2 separate regions of the Homo sapiens genome follow, and region 1 is linked to region 2. The links come from fine-mapping of genetic effects on gene expression. Tissue or cell type: whole blood. Region 2 holds a variant in brackets; the other region holds the start of a gene. All regions are shown on one strand. Distances are from middle to middle.

What was found. PIP is the estimated chance that this variant, and not a neighbour inherited with it, causes the effect.
Region 1: it holds the start of LTBP3, and the variant in region 2 is fine-mapped to the expression of LTBP3 in whole blood (INTERVAL, PIP above 0.99).

The regions. Positions count from the first base shown.
Region 1 is chr11:65,556,952-65,559,451 of GRCh38, forward strand. LTBP3 (latent transforming growth factor beta binding protein 3) reads right to left here and starts at 1,408. Exons shown (of 28, transcript NM_001130144.3): 1 at 678-1,408. The coding sequence starts at 1,008. RefSeq lists silencers at 1,237-1,476, 1,527-1,686.
Region 2 is chr11:65,325,926-65,328,677 of GRCh38, forward strand. It overlaps LOC124902691 (a long non-coding RNA gene), which reads left to right. Exons shown (of 2, transcript XR_007062728.1): 2 at 463-2,300. Among named protein-coding and RNA genes, the nearest start is that of DPF2, 6.6 kb to the right of the region's middle. The variant G/A (reference allele first, on the strand shown) is at 1,613.

The DNA.
Region 1 (2,500 bases), 230 kb after region 2:
GAGGGTGTAGGGGCTTGGGGGAGGATGAGGGGGGCCCTGAGGGCCTCTGAGGCAGGATGTTAGGAGCTTATGGGGAGGCATTGGAAAAGGAGAGGCTGAGAACCCCGAACTAGTCCCTACCTTCAGGCCTGCACCCTACTTTTAGGCCTCAACACCCTCCCTACTCAGACCTTGCCAGTAGCCGGCTCCCATCCCCAGCCCTGACCTTAGCTCCTCCTCCCAGGGAATGCAGGTGTCTACTCTGGCAGGCCCTACTTTAGACATTTTGTAAAGACTTTTCTTGTTTCTTCCAGCAAGTCTGCTTCTTGCGGGAATATTTAGCCCTTCTCTGAGGCTTCCTGTCCCCGGCTCACATTCCTCAAAAACCCTGTGTGCTCCTGCTCAGAACTCAGCACCTTCTGGGAAGCCAGTGTCATCCAGGACCTCTGCATTTCCCCACCCCTTAGGCCCCAACCCTAACGCAAAGCTTCAAAGTCCAGGCCTCCATGCAGCCCTCCAACTCTGGCCCCCAGAGTTCCAGCCTCCCAAGTTCCCTGAGGCCCCTGGTCCCCCAGGCCCTCGGATCTCTGCCCTTTATACCCTCAGCCCCCAGTCTCTAAGGCCAAGACCCCACTAGCTCTCCCACCGGGCCTGGTGCCTGTCCTTCCCCTGCCCCCAGCCGTGCCCCCGGCCCTCACCCACGCGGAAGCCGGAGCCCGTGAGCGTGTCTGTGCTGTGGCCGTTCTCTCCGATGAGCGTCATGTTGGAGCCCTGCTGACAACTGTCCCGACACTGGCCCTTGAGACAGGTCCGCTTGCAGATCACCGGCGCAAAGACCACCTTGAAGCGCTCGCGGGCCAGCGCCCCGCCCCCGCCTGCGCCCCGCTCGCCGGCCGGCCCCCCCTCGACCCTGCCGCCCAGGCCCAGCAGCAGCAGCAGCAGCAGCAGCAGCAGCGCCAGCAGCCCCGCCGCCCCCGCCCCGCGCATCTCAGGGGCCAGGCCGCCAGCAGCCCCTCGGGGCCCGGGCATCCGGGGCCGCAGGACCCGGGGGAGGGGGGGCGCGCCCGGGCGGGGCGAGGGGCCCGCGCCCGAAGGGAGTAGAGGGCCGGGAGCCCCGGGAGAGGGTAGGGGGCAGCGAGGGAGGGCAGCGGGGGAAGCGGGCGGGAGGGGACCGCGGGGGCCCGGCGGGAGGCGCGGAGATGCAGACTGGACAGCGGGGAGCGCAGAAACTTCCCAGCCCCAGGACGAAGCCCAGACCAGGCCCCGAACTCAGGCAGGAGCGAGGAGGCCGGAGCAAGTTGAGGCGGAGAGGAGGAGCGAGGGAGAGGAAGGCCGGGCGGCCGGCCCGCTCCGCGCCTCCCCCTGGCCGGGCTCCTCTCCCGCGGCCGCGGGGAGGCAGGGAGCGCGCGGGGAGGGCTCAGGGAGAAGTGAGCAGTTGTTTTCCCTGGCTGGAGCGCGGCGCGGCGGCGGCGAGGGGGGCTGGGACGCTGGCCCCGGGCCAGGGACACAGTTTTTTTTTTTTTGTTGTTTAAAGCGTCGCCTCTGCCGCCTGGAGAAGCGAGGGTGTGCAGGCTGGCGGAGGCTGGGGGGTGGCGCGGGGACAGTCCCCACCCCAGATGCCCGCCCCCGCCGGAACCCGCGGCCGCGCTGGGCCCTTTCCAGAGGGCCCTCACCTGGGACCGTCTGGCCGGCCGCGGATTCCTCCGGGCGGGGCGGGGCGGGGAGGCCTGCGTAGAGCGAGATACCGAGGCTGAGGGAGAGAGGTGGCCCTGCCGGGTCACACTGACGATGGAGGCCGGGTGGAGCCGGAGCCCAGGCCTTCCAGCTCTTTCCCAGCCTCCCTTGCAAACGTGGGGGTCTCAGGGCCCCAAAGTAACTTCTCGTTAGTGCTGGTCCAATCCCCTCTGAGGAAAGGGCTAAAGGGTGGGGACAGCCTTTGGCCAGGGCTCACGGAGGTCCCAGGAGGAAGTCTGTGGGGTCCAGAAGAGGAGCAGAAAGAACAAAGCTAGAACCCAGCTTCCCTGCCAGCCCCCTCGGAATGGCTTCCTGGTGCCCACCCTGCCACCTCCCCCCTTTCCTTTCGTCTGGCCGTGCTGGCGGGGCTGGCTCTGGGCCTCAGACACTCTGGAATCGCCAAGGTCTGAGCTCAGGGCCTGGCCCCCTTCCCAGGCTAACAGCCGGGAGGACGGGGGCGCTGTCCGAGGGCCCAGGGGCTGGAGAGGGGCACAGCAGAGCCCCAGGGCAGGGGCTGGCAGCGGCTGGGGGTGGGGGTCTTCAGGTTGGCCATGGCTGGAGAGGAGCATAGTTCCAGACCAGGCTTGTCCGCTGGTCTGGAAGGAAAGGCTGCAACGTGCGGGGGCCCAGGCCTTACTGTGGGGCCTGCCAGGAGACCCCAGGGTTCCGTCTCTGACTCACAGAACTCAGCAGGAGGTGGGGACGGCTAGGGCACATCCAGGAAAAGCGCTGCCAAGTCAGGGCGGCACCAGACCCTCTCCCGGACAGCACCCGGGGCAGCAGTCTA
Region 2 (2,752 bases):
ACCAAACTTTATGTTTTTGTTTCCCTTTTTTTTCTTTTTTTGAGACAGAGTTTCGCTCTTGTTGCCCAGGCTGGAGCGCTATGGTGCAATCTCCACTCACTGCAACCTCCGCCTCCTGGGTTCAAGCGATTCTTCTGCCTCAGCCTCCCCAGTAGTTGGGATTACAGGTAACTGCCACCATGCCTGGCTAATTTTTTACATTTTTAGTAGAGACAGGGTTTCATGATGTTGGCCAGGCTGGTCTTGAACTCCTGACCTCAGGTGATCCATCCATCTTGGCCTCCCAAAGTGCTGGGATTACAGGCGTGAGCCACTACTCCCGGCTAACTTTTTGTTTTTCACTTGAATTTTTTGTCATCATATGGAGACTGGAGATTTGATATACTATCAGGAATGGGATTTAAACCCAGGTCTGTGGGACCCCAACAGCCTGTATTTGACTGCATCTCTCTGTCCCTACAGGGGTTCAGCTTCAGGCCCTGGTAACGTTTGTGAAGACAGAGGGTCGGGGAACTGAAGGGCCAGCACCTTCTTACCTGTGGGGCCCCTCAGCACTTCAGTGGTTTATCTCCTGCTCTCTGGGGAGGGGAAGACAAGAAAAAAGGACACCATCCTTAGAGCTTCACCCAGTGGAAGACAGCAACTCACCCTGGACCTGAGCTGAGGCCGGAGTAGCCATGGAAGGAGGAGATTCTTGTCCTGGGTCCCCAAAGTGCTCTCAACTCACCCTGCATCAGGCACCAGCCACAGGGCCCTGGGAAACCACTCGGGGCTGGTCTGCCCTGTTGGGGTGGAGAAAGGGAACTAGGCAACAGAACTGAAGCATTGGATTAGCAGCTCAGGATACCGCCTTCAAACAAGGTAGCTGGCCGAGCACGGTGGCTCATGCCTGTAATCTGAGCACTTTGGGAGGTCGAGGTGGGTGGATCACCTGAGGTCAGGAGTTCGAGACCAGCCTGGCTAACATGGTGAAACCCCCTCTCTACTAAAAATACAAAAATCAGCCAGGTGTGGTGGCGCGTGCCTGTAATCCCAGCTACTTGGGAGGCTGAAGCAGGAGAATCACTTGAACCTGGGAGGTGGAGGTTGCAGTAAGCCAAGATCACACCACTGCACTCCAGCCTGGGTGACAAGAGCGAGACTCCGTCTCAAAAAAAAACAAAAAAACCCAAACCCTCCCTCCCCCCCAAAAAAAACAAAGTAGCTAAGGTAGAGAGAAGGACCTTCCCACTTCGGCTTATCTAGACACTATACTGCACAAACACACCTACAAAGGAATTCCCCAAAATAGGCAGAGAAGTTGTTGGACAATCAACAAAATGACAAATGCCCCTGCGGTGCACTGTTTTACATGCCCAACAGTCATCTATATCCTATTCTCTGTCTTCAAAAAACAGCAACAACATATCTGGCCTATGTAGTATAGTGAGTCTATCCCTCTTTCTGTCAAAAATACATTCACTCGGCCGGGCACGGTGGCTCACGCCTGTAATTCCAACACTTTGGGAGGCCGAGGTGGGTGGATCACCTGAGGTCAGGTCAGGAATTCAAGACCAGCCTGGCCAAGATGGTGAAACCCCGTGTCTATTAAAAATACAAAAATTAGCCGGGC[G/A]TGGTGGTGGGTGCCTATAATCCCAGCTACTCAGGAGGCTGAGGCAGGAGAATCGCTTGGACCTGGGATGCAGAGGTTGCAGTGAGCAGAGATCATGCCACTGCACTCCAGCCCAGGCAATAGAGCAAGACTCCGTCTCAAAAAAAAAAAAAAAAAAATTCACTCTCTCCGAAGGGAGACAAGTCAAAGTCTTGCTAATTATCATATCCACTCCCAAGTCTAGCGTTTCTGGATGATGTCCATTCCTCCTGCAATTCCCTTATCATCCATCTCAACATTTTGCAACCTATGAACTGTATCGTAAAGTTAATTACTACCAATACACCCTATGTACAGGAGCAGAGGGAAATAAAGAAGAATGAAGAATTAAAATCTATTAAAGGCCAGGAGAATGGCTCACACCTGTAATCCCAACACTTTGGGAGGCCACGGCGAGTGGATCACCTGAGATCAGGAGTTTGAGACTGGCCTGGCCAACATGGTGAAACCCCGTCCCTACTAATAATACAAAAATTAGCCAGGCGTGGTGGCACGTGCCTGTGATCCCAGCTACTCGGGAAGCTGAGGCAGGAGAATCTGGGAGGCAGAGGTTGCAGTGAGCTGAGATCATGCTATTGCACTCTAGCCTGGACAACAAGAGCAAAACTCCTTCTCAAAAAAAAAAATCTATTAAAAATATACTAACTGAGTGCAGTGGCTCACGCCTGTAATCCTAACACTCTGGAAGGCCGAGGCAAGCAGACTGTTTGAGTTTAGGAGTTCGAGACAGCCTGGGCAACATAGCAAGACCCCGCCTCTACTAAAAATACAAAAAAAAAAAAATAGCTGAGCATGGGTGTGCAACAGTGGTCCCAGCTTCTCTGGAGGCTGAGGTGGCAAGGATCCCAGGAGGCAGAGGTTGCAGTGAGCCAAGATTGCACCACTGCACTCCAGCCTGGATAACAGAGCAAGACTCTGTTATCAAAAAAACACAATTTTCTTTTTTTAATTCAGCTGGGTGTTGTGGTACATGTATGTAGCTTCAGCTGCTTGGGAGGCTGAGATGGAAGGATCGCTTGAGCTCAGGAGGTCGAGTCTGCAGTGAGCCAAGATCGTACCACTGCATTCCAGACTGGGCAACAGGAGAGACCACAGCAAGAA